2 separate regions of the Homo sapiens genome follow, and region 2 is linked to region 1. A link means that fine-mapping ties the variant in region 1 to the expression of a gene that starts in the linked region. Tissue or cell type: putamen. Region 1 holds a variant in brackets; the other region holds the start of a gene. All regions are shown on one strand. Distances are from middle to middle. Region 1 overlaps CORO2A (coronin 2A). Region 2 holds the start of TBC1D2 (TBC1 domain family member 2).

The links. PIP is the estimated chance that this variant, and not a neighbour inherited with it, causes the effect.
Region 2: TBC1D2 starts here. The variant in region 1 is fine-mapped to the expression of TBC1D2 in putamen (GTEx, PIP 0.96).

Annotation. Positions count from the first base shown.
Region 1 is chr9:98,176,165-98,191,950 of GRCh38, reverse strand. The region is part of intron 1 of CORO2A (coronin 2A); the gene reads left to right. Among named protein-coding and RNA genes, the nearest start is that of CORO2A, 8.6 kb to the left of the region's middle. RefSeq lists an enhancer at 1-461. The variant A/C (reference allele first, on the strand shown) is at 3,457.
Region 2 is chr9:98,248,761-98,264,546 of GRCh38, reverse strand. TBC1D2 (TBC1 domain family member 2) reads left to right here and starts at 8,898. Exons shown (of 13, transcript NM_001267571.2): 1 at 8,898-9,374; 2 at 12,621-12,762. The coding sequence starts at 9,006. RefSeq lists enhancers at 493-542, 8,174-8,663, 14,884-15,786 and a silencer at 8,834-8,883.

The DNA of each region.
Region 1 (15,786 bases):
TGCCTGGACCAGCCCCACGTAGGCACCTCGATTTAGAGAGTGGTATAGGATAGCTCCTTCCCCTTCCCCACCCGGGCCAGGTGCTGGTGCCTAGCTCTGTGTCCCAGAGCTAGTGTGTGATAAGGTGTGACACACACTAGCTGGTGTGACAAGGGGTGACTGGCGGCCACGCCTGGACCTCAGAGGGGTGACAGTGCCAAGGTGCTGTGTCCGCGTGGCATTAAGGGATGGGGCAGAGCACAGGTCTGAGGGACTGTGGTCCCAGGCTCCCTAGGTAAAGAAGACCTATGGCATCTGGCCCAGCCCCTCTGTAAGATCCCCTCTGGAAGGTCTTGCTGCCCCCTTGCACACTCCTTGTGATAGGAATCTCACTAGTTGTAAACCAAGCTGGAATCTGCTACCCAGTCACTGCCTCTCCTGCTGGTCCTGCTCTGGACACACAAACAACCTCTGACCCTTCCTCCCTCACCCTGGGGCAGTGGTCAGGTCCCTTAAATATGCTCATCTCCAGACCCAGCAGCCCCAGGCCCAGCAGTTTCTCCCATCAGATCCCAGGGAGCCAAGGCAAGAAGAGGGAGCCGAGGTGTCTGCCCTGGAGCAGGCTGTGGGGCCTCCGCTTTCCTGGGGCTTGTTCAGAACCCACCTGTGCATCAGGACTGGAATGTGTCTCCCCAGCTTCCTGCCCCTCCTGGGGACCGTCTGAGAGGTCCGGAGTGAGGAGAGCCGGAGCCCCTCTGCAGGCCTTTCCTGCCCCATGGGGCCTCTTCTCCACCTCCCTGATGCCTGCCCTGTTTGAGGGAGCAGTTTCTAGGAATCACTTCTCAGCCTCCTGGTCTTTCTTGTCCCCTTCATGACCTGCCCTGCACCCAGGGATTTTCTTAACAGCCAAAAGAGGGCAGGAGGCCCCTGGACAGGTAGTGAGCTCTTTGTCATCACAGGTATTCAAGCAGAACCTGGGGGTGAGCTACCTTGGACTGAAAGTCTATGGAATTCTAGGGCTGAAGTAGTGCCTATGACCTTGCCCTGCGGCCATGGTGGAGCTGCACAGGACTGGGAGCTGGACCACAAATGAGTGTTATTATCCCCTCGTAAAAGCAGGCAAAGTATATGTGCTGGCCCATGAGCCCAGCTCCGACGCACAGGCTTAAGTGCTACCTGGGTCTCCTGTCATCTCGACACATGTATAATCTGGGCCCTGTTTTCCTGCTTGCCTAATTCAAGCCTTTTTGGCCTGATTTAGGAGCATGGCAGATTCTGGTTATTAAAAAGTCATGCTATGACTTTAATTGCTAATACTTTTTAAATGCACCATGGAATCATGGAATGTCTGAGCTGAAAGGAGCCTTCAGACGTCGTCTCATTCAACCCCCTCATTTTACAGATAGGCATCCCCTGTCGCCAGAGGGGATGTGACTGGGCAAAGGTCACACAGCAAACCAGCAACCGAGCCCAGGGATCCTGATTCCAAGATTGGAGTGCCTTTTTTTCTCCAAAAAAACACATAACATATAATAAATGAAAGCAGTCTGTATTTATTCCTGTAAAATTAGCAAAAATAAAAATAAAAAGATGAAACTCTGTGCTGGCAAGGCTATAGGGATTCGCCTGTGGCATTTAATTTTGCAGAGCAACCTGGCAGCCTGTTATCATGAAAATGATCATATTTGCCCTTTGCCCTTAGCCGGCTACTTTGGGGACTTTATCCTAAGGAAGTAACTAGGGAGAGAGACATATGTAGTGCTGTTATTTGTAAGAAGTTGTCTTCTGGCCAGGCACAGTGGCTCATGCCTGTAATCCTAGCACTTTAGGAGGCCAAGGTGGGCGGATCACCTGAGGTCTAGAGTTTGAGACCAGCCTGGGCAACATGATGAAATCCTGTCTGTACTAAAAATATAAAAATTAGCTGGGTGTGGTGGCACATGCCTGTAATCCCAGCTACTCGGGAGGCTGAGGCAGGAGAATCACTTGAACCCGGGAGGCAGAGGTGGCAGTGAGCCGAGATTGTGCCACTGCACTCCAGCCTGGGCGACAGAGCGAGACTCCATCTCAAAAAAAAAAAAAAATAAAGGAGTTGCCGTCTAGTGAAGAAGTGTTCAGTTTTATCTGAGGCTTAATAAACATTTCATTTGACAAATACAGCTTAAAAAATAGTGGCACTGAAGCTTACATTACCGGAGTCTGGCCAGCATAGAAACAGTTTAATCCAGAAGAAAGACCATGAGACTAAAGTCAGCAGACATAGATTCCAGATTGAAGTCTTCCTCTTCCCTACTGTGTGACCTTGGGCCGATCCGTTCCCCTCTCTGGACCTCACTTTCTCCATCTGTGAAATGGGGGTAGACTCAGCAGTTGCTGAATTTGTTTGAGCTCTGACAGCCAACCTCTTAGAGTGAACAAATCTCAGTAGCAAAGCCGAGATTGGAAGGAGATTCATTAAATGAATCCCCTTAGAGGCAGGTAGCTAGCTCCCCACCGAGGGGTTTCAGCCTTAAACCTTTGCTATTTCAAAATGGCCAGAAGCTGGATCGTTTTAGAAGTTGGTGTGTTTTTATCTTCTCTGCCAAATCTCAGGAGGTCCAGAAAATAATTCAGCAGAATCTTCTTGTGTTTTAAGTCTATAATCCATGCCTTGCCTCCTTCAGAACAGATTGGACGTGCTTTGCAATCACACCTGGTCTAAAGGGCCAGGAGTAGGTGACTTTGCTTCTGTGGTCAAACTGTGCCTCCTGGGGGTCTGCAGGCTGCTATGGGAAACTTACTAGGTTAAACCACATGAAACGGCCAGTATGTGACTTTTTTTGACTTACAAGAAATGGCAATTTCATTTGGTTCAGCCTAAATGGAAAAAGATATACAGGTATTTAAAGAGCGGTGTGCTCCTTACTATAATTGAGAGATTGGCAGGGTGTGGTGGGGACAAGGAAGGTGTGATTATGAGCTTGCAGAAGTCAAGGAGGAGGGACATGGGAGCCTCACTTTGAAGAATCACTAACAGTAATAATAATAGCTAACATTCATTGAGGGTTTACCGCCTGCCTAATTCTGTCCTAAGTGCTTTATGTTCATTCATTCCATTAGTCATTCAGCCAGTATTTATTAAGCACCTACATTGTACTAGTTTTTTTGTTTGTTTCTTTTGTTTTGTTTTTGTTGTTGTTTTTTGTTGTTGTTGTTGTTTTCTGAGACAGAGTCTCGCTCTGTCTCCCAGGCTGAAGTGCAGTGGCATGATCCCGGCTCACGGCAACCTCCGCCTCTGCCTCCTGGGTTCAAGTGATTCTCATGCCTCAGCCTCCTGAGTAGCTGGGATTACAGGTGCGTGCCACCACACCAGCTAGTTTTTGTATTTTCAGTAGAGACGGTGTTTCGCCATGTTGGCCAGGCTGGACTCGAACTCCTGACCTCAAATGATCCGCTTGTCTCGGCCTCCCAAAGTGCTGGGATTACAGATGTGAGCCA[A/C]CACACCTGACCTGTACTAGGTATTTTCTAAGTGCTGGGGAAAGGGGGAAGGCGCTGATATTAAACAAAATAGACCAGAAAGATCTTCCCCCAAAGAGCTTACAATCAGATGGGGGGAAGACAGATGAAAAACAATAAATAAAATAGATGAATAGGTGATAAATAAAATCAGTGATAAATGAGGTGGAGCAAATAGAACATAGGAGGGGTTAGGGTGTGTGAGGGGGCAGTTTTAACTAGGGTGGGCTGGGGGCCTCATTGAGAAGGTGATTTTTAGGCAAAGGCTTGAAGGAGAGGGGTGAGTCAGGCTCATTTCTGGGGAAACAGCCATTCAGGTGGAGGGAACAGCTGGGGCAAAAGCCCTGAGGCAGGACCATGCCTGGCATGTTCAGAGAAGCACGAGCTGGGACAGAGTGATGGCGGGAGAAGAGGAAGAGAGGAGCAGGCAGGCCCTGGGCTAGACTGTGTACCCCACCATGCTCATAATGGAATCCTGCGAGTGTATGACGGAGCTACTCTTTTTATCCCGCTTTTCCAATTAAGAAAACAAAAATACAGAAAAGTTACATGGCTTATTGAAACTGTGTCTCATGGAGAATCTAGGACTTTCAGCCAGGGTCAGCGGGGAGCCATGGAAGGCTTTTGAATTGGGTAGGAACATGGCCAGATTTGAATATTGGTGTGATTCCTGCGAGATTGCTATGGTCTGAATATTTATGTTCCTCCAAAGCTCATATGTTGAAATCTTACCCCATAAGGTGATGGTATTAAGAGGTGGGGCTTTTGAGAGGGAATTAGGTCAGGAAGGCAGAGCCCTCATAATGGGATTAGTGTTCTTATAAAAGAGGCCCCAGAGAGACCCTCACCTCCTCCACCACATGAGGACACAGTAAGAAGGCGCCATTCTATGACCCAGGAAGTGGGCCCTCACCAGACTCCAAATCTGCTGTCTTAGTCTTGGACTTCCATCCTCCTGAACTGTGAGAAATACATTTCTATTGTTGATAAAGCACCTACATTTTTTTTTTTTTTTTTTGAGATGGAGTTTCGCCCAGCCGCCTAGGCTGGAGTGCAGTGGTGTGATCTTGGCTCACTGCAGCCACCGTCTCCCGGGTTCAAGTGATTCTCCCATCTCAGCCTCCTGAGTAGCTGGGATTATAGGTATCCGCCATCATGCCTGGCTAATTTTTTTTTTTTTTTTTTTTTTTTTTTGAGATGGAGTCTTGCTCTGTCGCCCAGGGTGGAGTGCAGCAGCACGATCTCGGCTCACTGCAAGCTCCACCTCCCGGGTTCATGCTATTCCCCTGCCTCAGCCTCCCCAGTAGCTGGGACTACAGGCGCCCACCACCACGCCCGGCTAATTTTGTTTTTGTGTTTTCAGTAGAGACGGGGTTTCACAGTGTTAGCCAGGATGGCCTCAATCTCCTGACCTCATGATCTGCCCCCCTCAGCCTCCCAAAGTGCTGGGATTACAGGCGTGAGCCACCGCGCCTGGCCAAAGCACCCAATTTATGATATTTTGTTGTAGCTGCAGCAACGGACGAAGACAGGTGCAGAGAGATGGCTGTAGAAATAGTCCAGGCCTGGAGTGCTGCTGTGGGACCTGGGCAGTGAGCTCAGTGCTAGGGGAGAGGTTGGGGTCCAGGCCAGGTGAGCAGGAGGAGGATGAGGAGGAAGCCAGGCTGACCCTGGGCTTATATATTTAACAAACACTTATTAGCACTTCTTACCACCATCTAATATTTTATATACGTTAACCCAATCCCCATAACAACCTATAGGGTACATACTGTTTGTTATTATTTCTCCCGTTTTAAAATGGATATATTATATGTAAATGATATCTCATGAAGTTAATTTACAAAGAAAATACATTTTTAAAATTATAAACACTTGATAATGGAGAATTTCAGAAAAAGGCAGGAAAACAGACAAAATAAATTACCCATATCTTCTCCTCTTCTCATCCCACATAATCAATATGAACATTTACTTTCAGTCTTTTTTGTACTATCATTCCCATTTTATAGATGACAACACTGAGCCCCAGGGAAGTTGGGTAGCTAGCCCAGGATCATACATTCAATCTATGTCATCTGCCACCAGTGTCCAGGGCTTAATCACCTTCCCCTGCTGCCTGTAGTCCATCCCTGGAATGTCAGAGTTGGTGGGTTCCATTAAGATACCATCCCCCAAACCTAGCCCCTCCCCCCGCCAGCCACCCCTCTCCTGGCATCATTTCACAGATAGGTAAAGTAAGGCCCAATAAGAGATGGGGCCTTGCTCAGCATCTGTCAGCCAGTCAGGAGCAGATAGGTGAAGTCTCATTCAAATAAGAAATCGGGAGCTGAGCATTTGTGCAGGGTTGATATGACAGCTGCTTCTAGCCTGGCCTTGAGCCTGGAGTTTGTAGGGGCCCTGGCAAATGGCATGACCCTGCCCACAGGCAGTGCAGGGGCAGGCGTGTGTTCCCTGGGCCCAAGAGTCTTGTCCCTCTAGCCAGCCCTGGGTGGGAGGTGAGTTTGGGGCTTTGCCCACACTGCAGGTCCCCTGAGAGTTGTCTCCTGTACTCTGACTGTGCATTTATTTCTGGCTCTGGTGCCAGCAAACTCCTGGGGCTGCCTGCTGCCAGGGATGCAGCCCTGGCTTCTAGCCCCATCTCAGACACTGAGTGGCCTTGGGCCAGGGTCTCTCCTGGCCCACCTGCAAAATGGCATCATAACGGCCCCAGCCACAGGATGAAGTAAGAAGTGCAAGGGAAGTTCTTGCACAGGGCGTGGTCTATGGCGTGCTCAATAACTGGGCAACTCCTGTGGCTGTTCCTAAGGCTGCACCACGGTGTTGGCCCAGGCTGGGGAATTGAGCCCACTGCAGACAGAGCCCCCTCCTGCCAACCTCCCTTTCACACCTGGCTGACCAGGTAGACCTGCCTGAGAAATCAGATACGAGCCTCCAGCAATGGTTTGGAGTCTAAGATTGCGGACAACAAGGGATGCAGTGGAGCAAAAGAACCCAGGCCTCTGAAGAAGGAGAGCTGACCCCGCTGCTGATATGCTCCTTAGGCAAGTCTTGACCCTTCTTTATGACTCAGTGTCCTCATCTGTAAAAGGGGAAGAATAATTCCTGCCTTAGTCATTGTAATGATCTTCACCCCAGCAACCACCTATTGATGTTTTTCTAATGCTTGGGGAGTGTGAATGCAGACAAGCTAGACCCATCACAGCCGTGAGGGCCCATGGCCTGGCAGGGGCACTACAGTTATCATAGGGAAGCCCAGGAGCTGTGGGGCCTCCAGGAGGGCACCTAACCCAGCCTGGGGTGGAAGTGGGGGGTCATGGAAGGCTCCCTAGAGGAGCTGATGCCTGAGCTGGGTTGTTAGTGTGATTTGGAGACGGCCAGACTATGAAGGGTAGAAAAATAAGGGAAGATATTGGGTCAGTCACTCCACTTCTCTAAGCGTCAGTTTCTTCATTTATAAAATGAGGATAATAAATACCTGTTCTGCCTAATGTATAAGCTTGTTGTAAGGCTCTAAATTGGATAAAAGTAAGGAGGCGCTTTATGAACTACAAAATGCCAGGCACCTACCTATTCATTATTCATTGTGATTTCTGGAGCCCCTAGGGGTTAGGGAAATATCAGGCCAGCATCTGGGGCTGGGAGAACTTTCAGTTGGTTTTGAAAGGGCTACAATCAAATCGGACAGAGACAGACAGCCGCCATTAACCACACACCCCTTGATTTAAGTGCTCTGGAGTATTTCTGTGCCTGGGTGTGGCTTTGTTTGGTGGGGTCCCCGAAGGCAGCCATGGCCCCATCACAGATCACAGCCCCACTCTGAGGATGAGGAGGAACAACGTCAGACCCAAAGCACTACGTCCCTGTAGAGGCCTGGGACCTGCCAGGGATAGGGATAGAGGACGGGAGCACTGTGGGGCCGCCATGAAGAAACCAGTCTGTTTAGAGAGAGGGCCACCATGTCACGGTAAGAGAAAGAGTAGTATGTGTGGAATGAGACTGTTTGGGTTTGGATATGAGAAAAGAATCTTTCCCTAGCATGCAGACATAGCAAAATATTCAGACAGACATCAAGCTAATTATCACTAGGTGGTAGAATTTTGTTTTCTTTGGTCTTTTCTACATTTAAAATGTTTTGGCTGGGCATGGTGGCTCCTCCTGGTAATCCCAGCACTTTGGGAAGCCAGGAGTTTGAGACCAGCCTGGGCAACAAAGTAAGACATTGCCTCTATTAAAAAAAAAAATAAAATAAAATAATTTTATACTTGATAGATAATTTATTTCTGTAAAGATTTTGGTGATATGTGTGCAGTCATTCCTAAATATTCAGCTTCCAGGACACCCAAGGATATCAAAATCTGTGGATATTCAAATCCCTGATATAAAATAGTATAGTGTTTACATGTAACCTACACACACCCTCCTGTATACTTTAAGTCATCTATAGATCACTTACAATGCCTAACACAATGTAAATGCTATGTAACTAGTTATTATACTGTATATACATATTTTTAAGACAGAGTCTTGCTGTGTCACCCAGGCTGGAGTGTAGTGGCACAATCTCAGCTCACTGCAAACTCCGCCTCCCGGGTTCAAGTGATTCTTGTGCCTCAGCCTCCCAAGTAGCTGGGATCACAGGCATGCACTACCACACCCAGCTAATTTTTTACATTTTTAGTAGAGATGGGGTTTCGCTATGTTGGCCAGGCTGGTCTCGAACTCTTGATCTCAAGTAATCTGCCCGCCTCAGCCTCCCAAAATACTGGGATTACAGGTGCAAGCCACCATGCCTGGCCCATTGTACTGTATTTTTAAATTTGTATTTTTTAATTGTTGTATTGTTATTTTTCCTTAATTTTTTCGAATATTTTCCATCTGAGGTTGGTTGAATCTACAGATGCAGGACCCACAGATACAGAGGGCCAACTATGTATGCAATACAAGTTATAATGATATTTAGATAATAAAATACTCAGGCCGGTCTGACATCAGCAGGCTGCAGGGATGAAGTCAGCACTCACAGCATAAGGACTTTGGTAAGGCCTGGATGACATCCCCAGTGCTGGCCTTCGGAACAGTTGGGAGCAGAGTCCAAGGATGGCTTGATGGAGTCACACTGGAGGAGATGTCTGTGGGGGTTTCTGAAGGTGGGAACTAGGACTCTTTTCTTGGGACAAAGACTTGGGGTTTTGGGTGGCTGCAAGCACAGTAGCATTGTGACCAAACTGTCCAACTGTGGAACCTACCACATCAGTAGCAACAGAGGGTTGGAGGCAGAGGTGAGGGTCCTGCTGAAGTTTGGGCCGCTTTCTGAGCAAGACTAGGACAGCTGAGACAGATCCAGAGGGGCGCCAGGCCGGGGAAGGGCCTGAGCCTTCAAATTCCGTGAAGCTCTGGAGATCCAGGGTGAATGCTAGGCCTCAATAGACCCTTGTCCCTTAACGATTTGTGTTCTTGGTCTTTGATCCCATCTCACAGGCGTTTCAGCCTCTTTGCAAGGGAAGTAAAGAATCTAAGCTACTGCGGTATTTCATTCAAGGCAGGGCTTATCTGTTGTGAGATGTACCCTTATTTTAGAATCCATTAAGAAAGAAAAAGCAACAGAAACTGTAAGTTGCATCCCAGTTTCAGAGATGTTAAAATGTAAAAAGCTGTCTTGGAATCATTTGACATGTGGCGGGTCCCCAATTAGACTCTTAGTGTGCATTCACTCATGGAATCTTCACCATCGCATTGTAGCTAGATAGTCTTGTCCTCTTTTTACAGATAAGGAGGCAGGAGCCCAGAGAGGTTGAGTAAATTTGCAAGGTCACGCAGCCAGCAAGAGGCAAAGCTGGGCTTTGAACCTGGTCTAATTAGATTCCACTTCTTTTTCCTCATCCAACCCCACAAAGAAAAGGCTCCTGAGTCCTGGCCCTTGGGAAGAACAGAATCTCCACAATGCCAGCTCAGAAATGCTCCAGTGGCCTGGTCATTAAAAGCCTGGTACTCTGAGTAATGGGGGTGGGGAGTGTGGAGGAGGGCTGGGGAGATAATGAACAGGAAGGAGCTTTGAGAGCTTGCTGGCAGGGTCACTAGCCTCATCCTTGTTGAAACCATTGCAGGAGTGGCTCGGCCTGTGTGGCCTGCCCTGGAGAAAGACTGTAGAGATATCTGCCCCACACAGATAATCCTGGAGCCTCACCCAGACTGACCCATTCATTCGCTCCCTAAAAAGTTATCTTTCAATGTAATTTTTTGACTAGGACCTTTGTTCACGATTGATTACTTTCTGTATGTAAAGCATTAGAGATACCAAGCACAGCAAAACAGACACAGGCCCGCCTTTGAGGGCTCACAGACCAAACGAGAGATGGACAGTAATCGTAGAGTCCCACAGAATCTGGAGGAGGAGAGAGGAGTGAAGGGCGTGCAGAGTAGAGAATGTGCTGAGTCCGGGGTCACTGCAAAAGGCTGCAGTCCAGGGCACAGATGGTGCCGGTCAAGGAAAGGAAGGTATTTGGAGATGAGATGGCTCTTTTAAGGAGGTGAAACTGAGTCTCAGAGAGGCCATAGGACTTGTCTGAGGTCACACAGCTTGGAAGTGACTCTCCTTGTATGGTTTTCTTTGTTGCGGGTTCCTTTCTTGAGTTTTCCTTTGGAGATGAAAACATGATGTGAGGGGAGCCATGGCCTGCGAGGGGATGGATGGGATGTTCTAAGGAAAGGACTTTGAGCTGAGATCTGAAAGATGAGTAGGGACTGAGCAGGCAAGGGTGGGGAGGGAGGCACGCTGCATAGGAGAAACAGCCTTGCCAAAGCCCTCCGGCTGGAGGAAACAGGACTTTGAAGAACTGAAAGCACCGTGATGTGTGCAGCTCAGATCCCTGGGCAAGGTGAGGCTGGGGAAGTAGAACAATGGCCGCCGAGGGGTCTGCTCACGTTTACATATTTCGGAAAGATCAAGGGCAAGATGGTTGGTGGCTGAGACTAAATGACCAAGTTTAACAGATGTTTGGAGCCAGGCACCGAGGCTCACGCCTATAATCCTAGCACTTTGGGAGACTGAGACATGAGGATTGCTTGAAGCCAGGAGTTCCAGACCAGCCTGGACAACATAGTGAGACCTCATCTCTTAAAAAAAAAAAAAAAAAAAAAAAGCAAGAGAGAGAGATGATTTGAAGGTGGGACAGGAGGCTGGGATTAGTGATGGATTGGCATTGGGTACAAGAAGAAGGAGGCCACGTGGGTGCCCGTGGGTTCTGGCTTTTCCGGCAGTGCCCTTCTCATGGCCTGACTTGCAGAGGGAGTCGCGCTGGGGGACACAAGCAACATGGGAGCAGCCTTCACCCCACTGGGGCCTCCTTCCCAGGGCTGGTTATTGTCCACCATTTTCCTCCCAACTGAGCTTAGATATCCAGGTTCACCCAGTGCTGGGGTTTGCCAGATGATGTGAAAAAAAAGTCAGTGGCGTGAGGGATTTTAGGGTGTTGATAAGAGTGAGCTGATGTCCCAGGTTACTGGGGACAAGAAATGGCCTTCCACAACATGCCCATGGAAATCACATGGCCCCCACACCATCCCTGGAGCTGGTCTTTCAGCAAAGGTGTTGCTGAGCATGGTGGTGGAGTTGGGGCATTGCTTGATGCATTGTGTCATCCTGGAGAGGGGTCTCTGGTTGTGGCTTCCAGGGCCCTCTACTCGAGCCTGAACCTGTTTTTACTGATCCATCATTGGGGACACTGGCAAAGGGCTGGTCACATGTGGCAGGTGACAGGAGGCTGGAGGTGGGGAGGGTGCGGTCAGGAGGGGTGCTTGAATTAGTGACTTTGGAAGCAGGTGGAGCATTTTCACCTAATGACAGAGTTCACTGTGCAGTCAAAAGAAGGGATGGTGCAGGTCAAGGAAAGGAGGGTATTTGGAGATGAGATGGTTCTTTTAAGGAGATGAAACTGAGGCTCAGAGAGGCCATGGGACTTGTCTGAGGTCACGTAGCTCAGAAGTGACTCTCCTTGTATGGTTTTCTGTGTTGCGGGTTCCTTTCTTGAGTTTTCCTTTGGAGATGAAAACGTGATGTGAGGGGAGCCATGGCCTGCGAGGGGATGGATGGGAATGCTTGCAGGAAGACTTCCTGGAAGAGGGAGCACTTCTCTAAGCTGAGCCTTGTAGCAGCCGGTCATACAGAGTGGTGGATAGGGCATTACTGGCAAAGGAAATGATGTAACCCAAGGACTGGAGAGGAGAAAACTTACTAGGCCTATATGGGATGCGATGAACGTAGGGTCTGGTTTGGCTCAGTATAAGAGGCAGAGTATAAGGTATTTGCCAGACGCCAAGGGCAGGGAGGTAGGTGCAGCCTGCCCTGTCAGGGAGGAGCGTTTTAGCACTGACGCACTGACGTTGTTTAGAATTGCAGGCACATTATGATCGTAAAATGTCAGACTTTGAGGCAGTTTTTTTTGCTTGCTGTTTTGTTTTGTTTTGTTTTGTTTGAGATGGAGTCTCACTCTGTCATCCAGGCTGGAGTGCAGTGGCGTGATCTCGGCTCACTGCAACCTCCGCCTCCCAGGTTCAAGAAATTCTCCTGCCTCAGCCTCTTGAGTAGCTGGGATTACAGGCACCTGCCACCGCACCTGGCTAATTTTTGTATTTTTAGTAGAGACGGGGTTTCACCATGTTGATCAGGCTGGTCTCAAACTCCTGACCTTGTGATCTACCTGCCTCGACCTCCCAAAGTGCTGGGATTACAGGCAAGAGCCACCGCGCCTGGCCTATTTTTAATTTCTCTGTTGAAAATGCACTTCCTGAGTGTCTGCGCCCGGCCGACTGCTCACCTCCCTCCTGCCCTCATCCCTGCCACTTCCCCTTCCCTGCTTGCCTCACATCCCTTCTTGATATACTCCTGGGCCACACCTTGGCTTTGAATCCCCAGCTGAGAAGCTATTGAAGGTTTTGGAATAGAGGATGCTGCCATCTACCAGTAGCCCAAGTGGGGTCTCAGCTTTAGAGAGGTGGGATCTGAGATGAGGACAGCCTGGAGGAGGCAGGAAGGACCTGGAAGATGGGGAGGATGAGAGATAGGAGCAGGATTGCAGGTCATTGCTTCATGAGACCCAGGACCCATGTCCACAGCTGCCCACCAACACGCCAGGCCCAGGCCAGCACAATGCTGGGCAGCAGGGTCTCCGCGTCCTGCAGGGTCACTGCTGTGGCTGGTAGGCAGAGGCAGAATCCTCATGCTCTAGCGGTCCCAGATCTCAGACACTCAAGTAGGACCTTCCAGAGCCTAGGGAAGGGTTTCTTCCCAGTCCGCAGATGTCAGCGAGACTTTACCGGCACTCAAACAGCAGCCCAAGAGCTGGTTTGATTCGTTCCATTTTACAGATGAGGAAACTGAGGCTTCAGAGTGAACCCAACCAAGAGGCACAGTAAAGTAAAAGGACCAGTAAAGTAAAAGGACCGGTAAAGAGCTAGACTGTGACCACTTTTAGCAGCCATTTGTAGCATCAAGGCCTAGAGATTTGCATTCTCTCCAGGATCTGCCACTGACCAGCCAGGTGACCCTGGACAAGTCACATCCCTTCTCAGGTTCTTGTTTCCTCACCTGCAAAGTGAAGGGTAGACTAGATCATTTCTGCCATCCTTTGAGCTTAAAAATTATCTCCGACTCTCTTCATCTTCTATCCCAATTGCCTCCAAAGTGATCTATGCAAGATGCACATTGGGGTGCAGGAAAAAATATCTAAACAAATAGAACAAAGAATTCAGCTTTAGTCACATTTGCCAGGTGGAGACACACTCGCCAGCTGGGGTGTCAGGCAGCCTCATGTGGTCCAGGAGTCTCCTGTCTCATGTGGTCCAGGAGTCTCCAGAGAGAAGGGGAAACACTCTGAGAAAGGGTAATGAGGACTCCCTTACTCTTTAGTCTGTTTTTGGCAAGTTATCCCAATTAATTAACCTGGTTTATTAATCCAGGTTAATCCAGACTAATTAATCCAGATTGGATTTACAAATTATATTCACCACTCTAAGCTAACTAGCGCTTACAGAATGGACACGTGGTTTTTAAAGATTCGTACTGAAAAATTGTGACTTGTTAGCAGTGCTTACTTACTATGCTAATAATGCTAGTACATGAAGACAAGGGAATGGAAGAGGTTGAGTGCTGGCCTGTAATCCCAGTACTTTGGGAGGCCAAGGCGAGAGGATCACTTGAGGCTAGGAGTTTGATACAAGCCTGGGCAACATAGCAAATCCCCGCCTCAAGGAAAAGTTTAATAATTAGCCGGGCATGGTGGCTCATGCCTGTGGTCCCAGCTACTCAGGAGGCTGAGGCAGGAGGATTGCTTGAGTCCAGGAGTTGGAGGCTACAATGAGCTATGATGGCACCACTGCACTCCAGCCTAGGCGACAGAGCGAGACTCTGTCTCTAAAAAAATGTTTTTAATAAAAATAAATTTAAAAAAGAAAAAAAGTGAGAGAATTAACACTGGGGTTTCTATTGCAGTCACTTCATCAGCTACAAGACCCAGGACAAAAACAGTGACAAGCTAATAAGTCTGACAAGTTTGTCAGCTCAAGTTTGTTTGTTTGTTTATGTTAGGGGACACTTTGAAATAGATATTTACAGTCACTCTGGTTAGTGATGAATCTCACTCTGTGTATACGTTTTGTCTTGCGAGGTTGATGATGATTACTTGTATATAATATAAGATAATGGGGTGTGAGCACAGTTTGTTTTTTTTTTTTCTTGTGGAAGGAGTGAATGATCAAAAAAGTTTGGAGATCACCTGAGGTCAGGAGTTCGAGACCAGCCAGGCCAACATGGTGAAACCCCATCACTATTAAAAATACAAAAAAATTTGCCGGGTGTGGTGGCACATGCCTGTAATCCCAGTTTCTCTGGAGACTGAAGCAGGAGAATCGCTTGAATCTGGGACACAGAGGTTGTGGTGAGCCAAGATTGTGCCACTGCACTCCAGCCTGGGTCTCCAGCAGAGCCAGACTCTGTCTCAAAAAAAAAAAAAAAAAAAAAAACAAAGTTTGGAGCCCATTGCTCTAACCTCCTGGTCTTTTCCTTGCTCCTGCTACCTCTAACACGCCACCACGTTTGTGATCAAGCGTTGCTCCAGTAGGGATTTCCCTATTTTTCTACCCATTCCCAAGGGGAGAGACCCCATGGGAATACCTCCATCCACAGAGCCCAGCACAGGGGCTATCTCCAGCTGGGGACTTGGAAAATGTGGGTGGAGTGAATGTGCTCCAGGTTTCCCCTCACATCGTGGGGGCTGCTGATGCTCTGCCGGCCTTTCTAGCAGAAAAGACCTAAGGTCTGCCATCATTCCCAGCCTAAAGCACTCTCTGGAGAAACACAGTTCACCTTTCAAAGGTGTGAGTCCAGGAGAGCCTAGATAAGGCCAATGACCCTTGAGCTCACAATTATAAGGCCTTTCTTTCCTAACCATCTTTGGAATTTGTCCCTCCACAAACGAGTTTCCACTATTACTTAGAGCAACACAGATAAGGAACAAAAATGTTTGGTACTGTATCCAGGTACAGGAAGACAGGACTCTGTTCTGTGTTTTAGCGTACTCTTTTGGACTGGGAGGCTGGAGACCTGGATCTTGTTCCTGGTTCTGCCCTGTGTGGGTGGCCTTTGGCGTGCTGACTCCATTTCCTCTTTCTGTACCCCACGATCTCTTGGGGTCTGGCTAGTGCTTTTGTTCTGAGATGTGACATCTGGGATCCTTTTGGGGACCTGCTCTGCTGAGGAGTTCTCAGCCCCCATCTGCAGAGTTCGAGTATAACCTGGAAGATGGGGAGAGCTTGGAGCACATGGGCAACCAAAATGGGGAGGACATGGGAAACCAAGTCACACAAGAAACCCCCACCCCCCAGTGGAGCCATCCCATGGTCCTGAGTTAAGAGGTCTTCAATCTCTGGAAGGCTGTCAAGGGGCAGAAACAATGGATGTGGCTGGCGGGGCTCCAGGAACAGGTAGGGCAGTGGGGAAAATTGTAGATTTCTGTTCAGTAGATGCGAGGAAGTCCACTGGTTGAGCACATCTTCCCCCAGCAGGGGTGAGCTCCCCATCACTAGACTGGTACGAGCCAAAACCATCAGACTGTTTACGTGGGGTGCTGGGGAAAGAAGGGCAGAATTCTGGGGTATTGTATTTGGTGCTTACCCCTAGATGTAATATGATTTGGGAGAGAATTAGTGGGTCTGGCTAAAAACTGAAGAATTAGAGCTTTAGATTCTAAATCAACACTCATGGGTTGATAAGGGGCACAAGGCTTTCTCTGCTTTCATTCGGTTCAGAGGGTTTTG
Region 2 (15,786 bases), 73 kb before region 1:
ATCAATATTTATAGAAAAACTATCAGTGAGAAATCTCATTTGCAAATGACTTATAGTTTTAAGTGAACCTAATTTCTTTAAAACATATGTATTTGAAAATCCTGTGTCAAATAAACATAAATAATGCTAATAATTAATGATATTATTCAAAAAATAGATATGTGAGGAAGTATATATTTTCCTAAAAAGAAAGCTTAAAATTTTTAACACATTTTTAATAAAACTGTATAACCACATTCCTGTAAGTTATTCCTTCATTACTAAAAGAACTAAAATTATCCCATTGTAAGAGAAGAAAACATTTTGACATGGAAGACAACTCGAAATAGTTTGAAGTATAATGCTTTATTAGTGCATGTAATAAACTTATACTGAACACAAATACATGATTTTGCTGATAGAAAATCAGTTTCTCATGCCTTCACTAAATGAATGGGTTAGACAAACATTTAAAATATACTGAATTTAAGGGTGTCAAATTAGTAACCTGACTGTTTTGGGTAGACAGGGAGTAGTGCTTTGTGCCTTTTTTAAGCCCTTGACAAGAGTTTGAGAACACCAAGTACTGTGTCCCGGAGGGCAGGTCCCACAAAGGCCGCAAGATGTCGCTTTCTGACAGCCTGTTGCTTGCAGCTAATCCTACCACAGCAGAAGGCAAAGAGGGTGAGGAGGGGTGTTGACCATATTTTGATGTAATAACCAGAAGTGCATCTGTTAGGATATACAACAATTGATGCACCTAGATCAACAGAGATTCCCTTATAATATCCCTAAACTTAAAACGTAGATCTTTTTTCTTCTTCATTTTCTTTTTTCCCTGGAGCAACCCTGAGTATGTTGGTGTTGGTGCAGATGTGGGATACCGAACTAAAATTTTTCCATCATTACGTTCAGTCTTCACAGACATCTGGCAGGATGCCCTGAGGAGTATTATAATCCCTATTTTACAGATGAGAAAGCCAAGGCCCCTAAAAATTGCAATTGGCAAATGAAAATTCCAGTGGCCACGTTTCTTGACACCCAACACCCCAGCTGAGGTTTATGCACTCTGGCCCTCTCCCCAGTCCTCATAGGGAGGTGGTTGGGGGCAGGCTTTGACTATTTTGCTTTTTGGAAATTGATTTAAAATATTTTATACTAAATTGTCTGATATGAACCCATATTTATTTATGTGTATAGAGCAAGGCTTCAGATAAATTTCGTGGGTGCTCTAAGCCACTTTGGGCTATGTCTGGAATGAGTTTCCTAAGGAAGCTCACTCCATTGTTTAGGGTGTGTATTAGTTTGCTAGGGTTGCCATAACAAGGAACAGATTGGGTGGCTCAAACAACAGAAATGTATTCTCTCACACTTTGGGAGGCTAGAAGTCCAAGATCAAGATGTCAGCAGAGTTGATTTCTTCTGAAGCCCCCCTCCTTGCTTTGTAGATGTGTCTTCACATGGGCTTTCTTCTGTGTGTCTGTGTCCTAATCTCTTCTTATAAGGACTCTAATCATAAATAAATAATTTATGGACAGAATCTTGCTCTGTCGCCCAGGCTGGAGTGCAGTGGCATGATCTTGGCTCACGGTAGCCTCCGCCTCCCGGGTTCAGGCAATTCTCCTGCTTCAGCCACCCAAGTAGCTGGGATTACAGGAGTGTGCCACCCAGCTAATTTTTGTGTTTTTAGTTGAGATGCGGTTTCACCATATTGGCCAGGCTGGTCTCAAACTCCTAAACTCAAGTGATCCGCCCACCTCCGCCTCTTAAAGTACTGGGATTACAGGCGTGAGCCACCATGCCCGGCCTCAGGCTTTAACAAATGAATTTAGAGGGACACGATTCCCCCTGTAACAGGGTGGAAACATTGAGAAGCCTGCATTATCCCTTCCAACTTTTTCCTGTGAGAATGATAGAGTTCTAGTCTGTGTCCTTATATCTACAGCATCAGAGAGTTTAACATGTGTCTTTCTTTCTCTAAGAAAGCTTCCCAGTTAATCTGCTATTTGTGTGTGACTTCTTGCTTGCATTTTATGGAAGTGGAGCTGGGAGAAATGATTTCTGATCCCCATTCTTGAGGTAAGGAATTATATTCAACTTTAAAACAACTTAAATACAGGAACAGATGTATACTTATAAGTACATTTTTTTCCTTAAAAAAGAAGGAAATCCTGCCTATTTGGGACAACATGGATGAACCTAGAGGACATTATGCTAAGTGAAATGAGCCAGACACAGAAGGGCAAATGTTGTGTGATACCAGTTATGTGAGGAATCTAAAATAGTTGGACTCAGAGGAGCAGAGTAGAATGGTGGTTGCTGGGGGCTGCGGGGAGGGAGAACATGGGGAGGTGTTGGTCAAAGGATATAGTTTCAGTTATGTGGGATGAACAAGTCCTAGAGATCCACTGCACAGCATGGTGTCTAGAGTTCACAATACCATGGCGTATACTTAAAAATGTGCTGAGAGTAGATCTCATATTAAGTATCATCATGAAATAGCGATAATAATTAATAGTAACAGGAAACTTTTGGAGGTGATGTATATGTTAATGGCATTAATTGTGGTGATGGTTTCACAATTATATACTTATCTCCAAATTCATTACATACTTAAATATGTACAAATTTCTGTATATCAATCCCACCTCAATAAATTTAAAAAAAGAAAAAATAAAAAGAAACTCTGGACGAGGGATGGTGGCTCACACCTGTAATCCCAGCACTTTGGGAGGCCAAGGTATGTGGATCACTTGAGGTCTGGAGTTTGAGGCCAGCCTGGTTAACATAGTAAAACCCTGTCTCTACTAAAAATACAATTAGCCAGGTGTGGTGGCAGGTGCCTGTAATCCAAGTTACTTGGGAGGGTGAGGCAAGAGAATTGCTTGAACCTGGGAGGCAGAGGTTGCAGTGAGCCGACATCATGCCACTGCACTCCAGCCTGGGTGACAGAGTGAGACTCTGTATCCAAAAAAAAAAGAAAGAAAGAAAAGAAAAGAAACTGGCTGGGCACAGTGGCTCACATCTGTAATCCCAGCACTTTGGGAGGGTGAGGTCGGAGGATCACTTGAGCCCAGGAGTTCGAGACCAGCATGGGCAACATGGCAAAACCCTATCTCTACTAAAAATACAAAATTTAGCCAGGCGTGGTGGCAGGTGCCTGTAGTCCTAGCTACTCAGGAAGCTGAAGTGGGAGGATCACCTGAGCCTGGGAGGTCAAGGCTGTGGTGAACCATGATCATGCCACTGCACTCCAGACTGGTGACAGAGTGAGACCCTGTCTCAAAAAAATTAAATAAATAAAATAAAATAAACTTTGTACCCATTAAACAGTAATTCCCCATTCCTCCCTCCCCCAGCCTCTGGTAACCTCTATTATACTTTCTGTTTCTATGAGTTTGCCTCCTAGGTACTGCATCCATGTTGTAGCATGTGTCAGAATCTCATTATTTATAAGACTGAGTAATATCCCATTGCATATATCCTACAGTTTCACTTTATATATGTAATTATCTAATTTACCTAAACTCTATTTTGATAAATAGTGCTATGGTGTAAATGTTGGCGTCCCACTCAAAATTCATATGTTGGAACCTAAAACCCAATGTGATAGTATTAAGAGGTAGAGTCTGTAGCAGGTGATTAGGCCTTGAGAGTGGAGTGCTGATGAATGAGATTAGTGCCTTAGTAAACGAGGCTTGAGGGAGTCTGTTTGCCCGTTCCACTGCGTGAGGAGGCAGCAAGTAGGCGCCATCTTTGAAGCAGAGAGCAGTCCTCACCAGACACTGAATCTGCTGGCACCTGGACCTTACACTTCCCAGCCTCCAGAACTGTGAGCAGAGGTTTCTGTTGCTTACAGAATACCCAGCCTAATGTGTTTTGTTATAGCAGGCTGAATAGACTAAGACAGATGCTATAAGATTAATATATAAACTTAACTGAATACGTATATTTTTGTTTTTCAGAACTTTGTACTTGGCTCTATTGATGTGCCTGTCCATGTGCCAAAAACACCGAATTCTGTTGCTCCTGTAATACTATTCACTTTCTTTCTAGCACGTAGGAGACTCTGGAGGTTACTATGTTCATTTACTTCTTTACCTGCCTATTACCCACCTCCTTTGACTAAAATGAAAGCTCAATGTGAGCCGTGACCTTGTCCCACTCATGACTTATCCCTAACATTTTAAATGGTGACTGATGGAAAGTGCTTACTCAATACTTGTTGGCCAAATTACTAAATGTAAATGTCTGGTAGGTTAAATCCTTTCTAGTTGTCCTTTCTCTCCAAAATGTTGGCAACTCTCACTTGTTTACTTCTGAAAAAGTAAAACTTAAAGCTGGGCACAGTGGCTCAGGCCTGTAATCCCAACACTTTGGGAGGTCGAAGCAGGAGGATCATGTAAGCCCAGGAGTTTGAGACCAGCCCGGGCAACATAGTGAGACTGCCATCTCTACCAAAAAAAAAAAAATTTTTTTTTTTAATTAGCCAGATGAGGTGGCATGTGCCTGTAGTCCTGGCTACTCGGGAGGCTGAGGTAGGAGGACTGCTTGAGTTCAGAAGGTCAAGGTTGCAGTGAGCTGTGATGATTGCACCACTGCACTTCAGCCTACCTGGGCAACAGAGCAAGACCCTGTCTCAAAAAAAAAAAAAAAAAAAAATGGAAAAGAAAGGGAAGGGGGAAAGACAGGAAGGAAAAAAAGAGTATGTAAGAATCATTTTAATAGGCTGCAAAAATTCCTATCAACCCCTCCAGGAGGTGGAGCTACTTATAAGGGGGGACTGAATTTAGCAACCCAATTCCAAAGAACAGTGTGTTGAAATGAAAAGGAGCAGCTTTATAGCAGAGAAATCTGGCAGACCCTACCTTATCCAAGTGATTAACTTTTCTTGTTATTAAAACCACCACTCCCGGCCTTAACATCCTTTTAAAATGAGAAAATTTAGGCCGGGCATGGTGGCTGATGCCTGTAATCCCAACACTTCGGGAGGCCGAGGTGGGTGGATCACCTGAGGTCAGGAGTTCGAGACCAACCTGGCCAACATGGTGAAACGCTGTCTCTACTAAAAATACAAAAAATTAGCCGGGTGTGGTGGCGAGCACCTGTAACCCCAGCTACTTGGGAAGCTGAGGCAGGAGAACCGCTTGAACCCGGGAGGCGGAGGCTACAGTGAGCCGAGATTGTGTCACTGTACTCCAGCCTGGGCAAGAAAGCAAGACTCTGTCTCAAAAAAATAAATAAAATAAAATGAGAAAATTTAAGCTACACAACTTAACAGTATAGGAACCATGCAGATATCATGTACTCTGATGTTGTGATGAGACGGGCACCTCACCTCTGTGGTAGTCTTCCCCAAAACATAACCTCAGTGAAATCATGAGACAAACCCAAAGTGATTGTATTCTACAAAACACCTGACTAGTATTCTTCAAACTGTCAGGACCATGAAAAACAAGGAAAAACAGAAATACGTCACAATGCAGAGGAGACTAAGGGAAAATGATGACTAACTATGGCATCTTGAATGGGATCTTGGAATAGAAAAAGGCTATTGGTACAAAACAGACAAAATCCAAATAAAGACTGTAGTTTTGTCAATAGTTTTTTTTTTTTTTTTTGAGAGGGAGTCTCGCTCTGTTGCCCAGGCTGGAGTGCAGTGGCACGATCTTGGCTTACTGCAAGCTCCGTCCCTGGGTTCACGCCATTCTCCTGCCTCAGCCTCCCGAGTAGCTGGGAATATAGGCGCCCACCACTACGCCCGGCTAATTTTTTGTATATTTAGTAGAGACGGGGTTTCACCATGTTAGCCAGGATGGTCTCGATTTCCTGACCTCGTGATCCACCCACCTCGGCCTCCCAAAGTGCTGGGATTACAGGCGTGAGCAACCGCACCCGGCCTTGTCAATAGTTTTGTACCAATGTTAGATGTTTATTTTTGCCAAACATACCAGGATTAAGCAAAATGTTAACATTAGGGGAAACTGGGTGTAGGGTCTACAGAAATTCTCCCATTGTCTCTGTAACTTTTTCTAAAACTATTCAAAAATAAAAAGTTTTTTTAAAGCCTATCGAGGCCAGGCATGGTGGCTCACACCTGTGATCCTAGCACTTTGGGAGGCTGAAGTGGATGGATCACTTGAGGTCAGGAATTCAAGACCAGCCTGGCCAACATGGTGAAACCCCATCGCTACTGAAAATACAAAAATTAGCTGAGCATGGTGCCCTGCCTGTGGTCCCAGCTACTAGGGAGGCTGAGGCAGGAGAATAGCTTAAACCCAGGAGGCAGAGGTTGCAGTGAGCCGATACCGCTCCAGTGCACTCCAGCCTGGGTGACAGAGCAAGACTCTGTCTCAAAAAAAAAAAAAAAAAAAAAGCCTATCGAGAGTTTGATTGAAAATGTATTAACTGTATGGATTAATTTGAGGAATGTGACATCTTTACAATATTAACTCTTCCCACTCAGGGACATATTTGGTTTGTCTTATATCCTACTATAAAGCAATAAGGTATTCATTATGTAAGTCATTTATGTAAGGGATGTTGTCCATTATATTTTCCATTTGTTTGCTGCTGGAGACATCTATACACATATGCACAGTTTTTTAAAACAGGCCACCACTTGAGTTTTTCTGGTATACGTAATATATTTATAATTATTCTTTCAAATATTTATCATTGCCTAGCTACAAAACCTAGAACAAATAAGGTATGCTGTTTGTTTTATTAAGAGGTTTTAAAAATCAGGAATGGGGCCAGGCACTGTGGCTCATGCCTGTAATCCCAGCACTTTGGGAGGCCAAGGCCGGTGGATCACAAGGTCAGGAGATCCAGACCATCCTAGCCAACATGGTGAAACCCCGTCTCAACTAAAAATACAAAAATTAGCTGGGTATGGTGACGCGTGTATGTAATCCCAGCTACTCGGGAGGCTGAGGCAGGAGAATGGGAATTGGAGAGCATGCCACTGCACTCCAGCTTGGGCGACAGAGCGAGACTCTGTATCAAAAAAAAAAAAAAAAAAAAAAATTAAAAAAAAAGAAAAGAAAAGAAACTGGCTGGGTGCGGTGGCAGGAGAATCGCTTGAATCCGGGAGGCGGAGGTCACGGTGAGCCGAGATCGCGCCATTGCACTCCAGCCTGCGCAACAAGAGCGAAACTCTGTCTCGAAAAGAAAAGAAATATTTTGTCCCACATTCTGTACTAAGAGCTTCACACATATTATTTTATTTAATTATCAAAACAACTCTAAGGGTAGACAGGTGTAGATCCAGGTTTTGTGGGGACTGGAATTAAACAGCATTAAGGGCCTTCTGATTTTTAAAAAATTACAAAATTATGAACACAAAATTAGGTATGACGATGGTTATTTAGAATGAGAAAATAAATTGTAAATTATAACAAATGAAGAGCTCTCTGGCATTTAGGAGAAATGCTCCCTGGTTGCAACTCCCCACCTGTTAGACTACAAATCCCAGCGACCCATGCAAGTGAACATAAATTTCATTAGCTTCACCGTAAAGTTGTCTGGCGGCGGGTCGGGGGTGGGTAGGAAGAAGTGTTATCTCCATTTTTAGGTTGAGCAAATCACTCAGTATTGCAGAGTGGGAATCTGAAAATTATGCAAATAGACTCTAGAGCCCTCGCCTTTACCCCCACCCTGCTTCTTGTCAATATCACTGAGTGTGCATGAGGGTCTCGTTAACGACGGCTGAGGGGGAGACGATGAAGTAAGAGGAAAGGCTGAACAAAGGGCAAGAGAAAGGCAGAAAGAAGCTCCTAAAGAAAGCTGGACGCAATTGGGCTCCGCAACCCTAATGGAGAAATGCGCCTTAGGAGGGAAGGGGAGAAGTTTAAGGGGAAACAGGTAAAATGAGGCAGAAGTTGAGCAAGTTAGTCAAACCCTAAATTCTTTTACTTATTTACAAAACAGCCTGGCGCGGTGGCTCTCGCCTGTAATTCCAGCACTTTAGGAGGCCGAGGCAGGAGAATCGCTTGAGGCCAGGAGTTCAAGACCCCCCTCTCTGCAAAAAACAATTTAAAAATTAGCCGGGTGTGGTGGTGCGCAGTTGCGGTCTCAGCTACTCGGGAGACTGAGGCGGGAGGATGGCTTGAGACCGGGAGGCGGAGACTGCAGTGAGCTCTGATCGCGCCACTGCACTCCAGCCTGGGTGACAGAGCCAGACCGTCTCTAAAAATAATAATAGCAATAACAAAATAAAAATAAATGTACTGCACCCAACTATGACCCAGGAGTGGCATGGGTTTCCGCAGCGCAGCGGCCGCGCCTGGGCGCCCCAAGCAACACAACCAGCGCTGTCAGGAGGCGAATAGGAGCCAGGACAGAGAGCTGGGGAGGCCACTGCTGTCAGGCGAGGGATAAGAAGGCCGTCCGCGGCGTCACTGACGGGGCTGAAGGAACACCAGGAGAAGAGTGGCAGACAGCTCCGGAGCCGCGCTGCCCGGGCGACGCCGGAAGATGGGCCTCCCAGCGGTCTTCCTTTCAGCCAATGGCCGCGAGATGCGCCGTCCGAGGGTGCCCCGCGCGGCACAGGGAGGGAACAAGCAGCCCATCGGGTGCAAGAAAGCACTATCTTTCTAGGTGACTATGCGAACTACCAGGGAAGTGTAGCTAGGGACAGGCTTCTCTGCCCGCGGTTAACCTAACTCAGTGCCACCACGCCTTTAACCTGAAGCCAGGGAGCACGGCTGCCCTCAGTAAAGATGGCTGACTGGCGCGGAGAAAAAGCCGGAAGCAGCTGGGCTTTGCAGGGAGCCGACTGAGCGCTGCGGGGGCGTGGCCTGGCGGTGGAGGGGCGTGGCCAGCCGCCGTAACCTGGGTTTGCGATCTTTGAGGCGCGCGCACCGCACCCGGTCCCGACTCTGTGGCTTCCTGGGGGCGGGTTCGCCGTCGGCCCCGCCCCCGCCCAGGTGTCTCCCTTTGGGAAGCTGCCCGCCGAGTCTCCGAGATTTGTCCCTGGTGGTCCCGCGGACCCCTCGTCCCTCCGCAGTCTCCGGCTGGCAGCGATGGAGGGCGCTGGGGAGAACGCCCCGGAGTCCAGCTCCTCTGCCCCTGGGTCCGAAGAGTCTGCCAGGGATCCACAGGTGCCGCCTCCGGAGGAAGAATCGGGGGACTGCGCCCGGTCCCTGGAGGCGGTCCCCAAGAAACTCTGTGGGTATTTAAGTAAGTTCGGCGGCAAAGGGCCCATCCGGGGCTGGAAATCCCGCTGGTTCTTCTACGACGAAAGGAAATGTCAGCTGTATTACTCGCGGACCGCTCAGGATGCCAATCCCTTGGACAGCATCGACCTCTCCAGTGCAGTGTTTGACTGTAAGGCGGACGCTGAGGAGGGGATCTTCGAAATCAAGACTCCCAGCCGGGTTATTACCCTGAAGGTAAATTCCTGCAACGACTTTCTCCTTTCCAGCGGCGTGAGGTCCCCTTTTCGCAGGGCAAGGCTGGGCGCGAGTGTGAGGTGGACACAGTAAATTTGGAGTGTCGGTGACGACAGTTCCAAGAACTTTGTGCTTTGCAAAGTGCATTCCCACCCATTTCCTCATTGGGTTCCCACAAGGCAGGGAAGACAGACCCATTTTACGGATCAAGAAACTGAGTCAGAGGGAGATGAAAGGACTGGCTCGAGGTCCATGCGTCTAGAGAGTAGGGTAGCTTGGAATCCCATAGTCTTTCTACCTCTCAGTGCTGAATCAAAACTTTTACTTTTGGGTGTGCCTGACAGTGCAGTTACCTTAACTTTCTTACCTGGGACCTAAGTAAGTCAAAATATGGTCTTTGCAATCCTCTCTCAAGGCCAGGATTCTGATTCCCGTTTCTTGATATTTTGGCCAAGGTCAGTGAATGCTGAGAAGAGACTGGCAGGGATTAGGAAAATAAACACTTAGGTTTCACTGATCAGCCTAGATTGTTCATCTAGGCATGCTTAAACCTGTTTTCCTATCAGCAGCAAGGGGTAGGTTTTATCATCATGTGTAACTGAGAAAGCCTAAAGCAGTAGAAAGGCCACATTCTTTGAAATCAGACGGGCTTGGATTCAAATTGTACATTTGCTACTTACTAGCTGTGTGACCCTGGACAAGTTACTTAACCTCTCAGAACCTAGGTGGTTTGTAAGCATTTGACACATCACAGGCATGTACAAATTGTTGAATTAATTGCATCACCTAGAATACAGCCTGGTACCTAGTGGAGTACTTAATAATTTTTTGTTGCATAAGCACACATGCACACACAAGGTGATGGAACCAAGGTCAGAGTGCTAATGTCAAGAGGAGGTGTCCCATAACTTAATTGGAAAGACAGATCTGGGCTAAGTGTTCTATGGGCATCAGAGAAGAATGTGCCAGGAGATAGCCTTCCCCACCCCATCCCCATCTGTCCACCCCTCCAACCCCAACTCCAGCTAAGTGGGTATCTGTGGATGCCCACGTGTTCAGTTCTCCTTTACTGACTGGACTTGGCGGGTGACCAGGCTGGGGGACTTGGTTAAAATAATGAAACTCAGGAATCCCTGGCCAGGGAAGGCATTTTCGAGGTCATGTGGTTCCCGGGTCTATGTGTCTCTTCCACAGGTTGACTGCTGTATGCAGGGTCTTCAACACATGGTCTTTATAATAGTATTCCATTGTTCCTGGCTCTGCGCTTGGCGGGGTGTGGAGCTAATGCACCCCCACCCCTGGTTCTCTGACAGCTTAAAGTCTGGTGGGAGAGACTGAGGGAGAACCTGCATGCACCCTGAAATGTTCTGTAGAGACATGTGATAAGTCTGTGCAAGAAGGTGTGGTGACAGGAGGAGTCAGTTCCACCAAGTGGAAGGGGCTAGCCAGAAAGGCATCTGGAGGAGGGACACACCCAAGGCTTGAAAGAAGAAATAGGTGGCAAGCAGACAAGAGGGAGAAAGGTATTCCAGGCCAAGAGAGCACCGTGAGCAAATTAGGAAACCATGATACAGCCCTGAGTGTCCAGGCAAATCACATGAGCCAGAAAAACAGAGGGGCCCAAAGGATGGAGTTGAAGAGCAGAGGCCCGAGGGTGGGGAATTGGCAAATTAGGCCAAGTAGCAAAAGCTCAGTCTGACTATTGGATAGAGAAGAAACTAGGGGAAGGGCAAGGCTGGTACTCAGGGAGCCCATCAGAAGGTGATCAGAAGAGAGTGACAGCTGAACTAGAGCTGTGGCTGTGGGGAAGGGGACAATGGAGGTGTCTCGGGATAGTAGGGAAATAGAATGAGGGAGATGTCAGGAGTGGCTGGAGTAACTGGCTGACTGCCTGGTTGGGTCAGTCACTGACAGGAGGGAACTCAGGATGAGGAGCCCATGGAACATCCAGGTACATGTCCCCTGCAGGAGACTCTCAAGTTCCAAGGGGACAGGGACCATGTGTGTTGGCTCACCCCTGTATTCAGTGCCTAGCACTATCTCTGACACATATGTCAATGCTCAGTATACCCTTGTCAAATGAGTTAATAAAATGGGGTATTTGGGTTCGGCTGGAGCTCATCAGCATTAAGGTCATGGGGAAGACCTGGGAGGTGCTGCAGTCTCTCTGAGAGAGTGTATGGAAAGAGAACACTGGTGGGCATCATTTATCTTATTGATACCTGTGTGACAGCCTGAGGGTCACTTTCACAGACTCCCCCCTGCATAGTGCACACCAGTGAACCCCTGAGATAGGGAGTTTGCCTCTGTTGCCATGTAGCCCGCTGTTGTTCTCATGTGGCCTTGATTGCAGGCAGCTCTCTGAGAATCCCCATCCACGCCCGGTGAGCTGTTCATCTTCTGCAGTCCACCTCAGCTGATCTCAGGCCTTCTTTATGAAGCCACTAATCTCCTGGCCATAAAATCCAACTTCTAGACCAGGGTTATGGGACTAGTTCTACCACCACATGCCTGGGCAACTTCAGAGGTTTAGTTTCTCCATCTGTAGAAAGGGGTGCTCACTCCTGCCTTGCCTCCCTCCTGAAGAATCCAGGAGTTATTGGATGTGAAAGTGGATGTTTGGACCAACCGCCAGCCAGTGCTGGGAGACTAATGACCAGCATTTACCATGAACTTGTTTGGAGGGCCAGAGCACCTGGAAGGTGCCACCATGTTGTCACATGTGCATGTGGCTTTCCAGTCTCCATTCATATCCATGATTCCAGTGCATCCCCAAGGCAAGGATTACTCCTATTCCACAAAAGGCAGCAAAGACTTGGAGATGTCACACAGAGATAGTGATGGTACCAGGACCCCACGCATATCAGAATTCAGTGCACCTCCCCCTCTCACAGCGCCTCCAAATTCCTCTATCCAGTGAGCACATTTTGAGCACCTACTGTGTGTCAGATACTGTGTGATACCCTTGTCTCATTTCATCCTCATCATTGTCCTATGCAATGAGACTTATTGTCACCAGAGTACAGATGAGGAAACTGAGGCCCAGAGCAGCTAAGGAACCGCTGAGTGGGAGACCAGAGCCTGATGATCTTCTGTGGCCAGGAAGCATACATACCTACAGTGACCCCCTTTTTTTTTTCCTGGGAAAGAAAGCATTCCTAAGCCTCCCACAACCTTCCCCTCTTCCTGCACCCAGTGCCACCCTTCAGGCACAGGGCCTTGCCAACTAATCCTTGTGCTTCTCAGGCCGCCACCAAGCAAGCGATGCTGTACTGGCTGCAGCAGCTGCAGATGAAGCGCTGGGAATTCCACAACAGCCCGCCGGCACCTCCTGCCACCCCTGATGCCGCCCTGGCTGGGAATGGGCCCGTCCTGCACCTCGAGCTAGGTACCCAATGGGCTACCCTCCTGCCTGCACACCCAGGGCTCTGGTGATTAAGCCTTTACCCTCCTGCTGGGAATGAGCGGGAGGAGCCCTCTGCTAAGGAAGCAGAGAGCCAGGGATATGACTCAGGATTAGTTAGGGCAAGAATTTGGGCTGAGGCCAGGCTGCCTGGGTTCAAATCCTAGTCCTATATAACTTTAGGCAAGTTGTTTAACCTTTCTGAGCTTGTTTCCTTCCCCATAAGATGAGGTTTATAAATTATCCCTACTTCTTAGGGATGTTTTGAGGATTAAATGAATTCATATACCTAAAATGGTTAGAACAATGCCTGCACATGGTCAGAACCCAATACTTGTGAGCTACTATTGTGATGACTATTATGGAAGGCCTCAAGAAATCAAACTTTCACAGAATTGCTGTGAGGAGGGTTAATAAGAAAATGCAGTGTTGTAGATTTGTGTCGTGAGTTGGGTAGATCAGTGACTTTTTTTTTTTTTGAGATGGAGTCTCACTCTGTTGCCCAGGCTGGAGTGCAATGGTGCAATCTCGGCTCACTGCAACTTCCGCCTCCCGGGTTTAAGCAATTCTCTGCCTCAGCCTCCCGAGGCAGCCTCAGCTGGGATTACAGGCACGTGCCACCACGCCCGGCTAATTTTTGTATTTTTAGTAGAGATGGGGTTTCACCATCTTGGCCAGGCTGATCTTGAACTCCTGACCTCGTGATCTACCCGCCTCAGCCTCCCAAAGTGCTGGGATTACAGGCATGAGCCACCATGCCTGGCCAGATCAATTATTTTTATCGCTGGTGTTCCCATAAGATAGGATCCTTTTCCCCCAGATGACTCACAAATGAAGTTTCTTGATCCCAAATCCTGGATCATCCCAACGTGGAAGAGTCCAGGAGACCACACCCTCCCACCCCCATGCTGCAGCCAGGAACATGATTGGCAGGTTTTAGGATCGGTATGGACCACCTCACAGCTGCCCCTGCAAGAATGTGGAAAATCAGGTCCCAGTACAAAGCCACACTGTGTCTAAAGTGCTTCATGTTCAGTTGACAGGGAGGCCAAATAGGCAAGGGCAGGACTTGTTACCAAGTACCCCCTGGACCTCTGTACCTGGGTGCTTTGCATGTCCAAAGCTGAGTACATCTGCCCCAACCCTTCTCCCCATTTCCCTTCCCTCCTCTCAGTAGATTTCCCCTCTTGTACCCACTAGTAGTTGCCCTCCACCCTTCCTCAATTCCAGCCAGTGAGTCCAGTCAATCACTGTGCTGGCCATTTTTGCCCTCTGACCCATACATCAGACCCAGGCCTTTCTCGCTGCCACTGCCCAGGTCACACCTCATCTCTCAAAGTCACAGTGGCCTCCTCTCCAGTATCCCCATGTGGAGGCCATGCCAGAACCCATCCCCTTCTCTGCAGCCTGAGTGAGCTTTCTTAAACCTGACCCTGAACCCGGTCACTGCCATCCAATGCCACCCACCACCTCACTCCTGCACTCAGGGCTCATCCCTCCTGATCTCACCTCTGCCTGCTCCCCCAGTCCCCACCTTGGGCTTGATGCTTCGGCAGAGTCTCTGCTCTCTCTCCTTTGCCTGGCAAATTCTTGCTTATTCTCTATGGCCAAGCTCCAGCATTGCCTTCTCTTCTTGCCAGCCTCCTCCTGGAAGCCTTCTCAGACTTTGTCAGCTGGATTCTCTCTGGGCCCTCAACACTTTTTTCAAACACTTCAAGGGAGACCTGTTCCATTGTGTTCTATTAATAATTACCCCCGTCCTTGTCCATCTCCACCCGCTAGCCCTTAAGGGTGGGGACTTTTTTTTGGTTGCCTGTGTCACCTCCCTGGTGTCCTGCCTGGCACATTGGATATTTGTGGAATGAATGTGTAAGTCAATACACTAAACTTTATAATTAAATGAGGAAAGGAATGTAAACCCCTTAGCATAACCTCAGGCACATAGTAAGTGCTCAATACATGGGAGTTGTCCTAATAATATTGTTATTCTATGTCTATATGTCTGTGCATAGAACACACCCATGCTATTACTATCATAATAGTATATACACAAACATATATAGGTGCTGTTACTAGTATAATAACTGTTCCTTTTATTCTTAATAATCATTAGTAATTTCTTTGGAGTTTCTTTTGAAGGGTTTCTTTGCTTCTGCTCCAGCCCCCACTCCCCATCTGCCAGGGAGCCAGACAACCCTGGTTTTGCAGAAAACTGCAGCCTGGGTTGATGCTGCTGCAAAGATCAGCATCAGACTAGAGGCCAGCAGAAACCTCTGCAATAATAGAATTCCTGTGTCTTAACTGAAATTTGAAGAAGCAGATTGTGGAAGAACGGCTCTGGGATCCTCAGACCTCTTCTGCTGTGGGGAACCTGTTGCAGGTTCTTTAATTGTGCGGCTTTGCTTCAGCACACACGGCGGGCCTCTTCCAGGCCAGCCCCTGCTGTGGGCATTGGAGAAAGGGGTGGAGTTGCTGTGATGACCTGGGTTCTAGTCTCCTGAGGAGGATGCTGCCTGAGACTCAGGAAGCAGGGACGTGAGCTTCTCCTCTTGAAACCTTTCCTCGCCTTGCAGCAAGCCTGCACTCTCCTCCCAGACCCAGGGCCTGGCAAAACCTTCCCAGCCCACCTAGAAAGATGTTTCTGGTGTCTTGGGCAAGTCAGCAAGGCCTGGATTAGCCACGTGGAGCAGGCTGCCCCACCTCGCCCGCCTCCACCCTTCCTGAGGAAGCAGCGGCCCGCTCCCATGTCGTTGAAAACCTCCTGACCCATGTCTGACTTTGAGTCAGAGACTTCTGGTAAAAAGTGTCTCGTCACTGCTCTTGAGCAATCTGCAAGGCATGTTCTCTCCTGCTTTTAAGGATTTACAACTTTATTTTATGCTTTACCTAAACAACGGTCTCCGCAGAGCCAAGAAAGATCAAAGGGAACCCACGAGACTTATAATAATAAGAATAGCAAGTTGCCACAGTAAGCTACAGTTTACAAAGGACCTGTATAAATGTGTACTG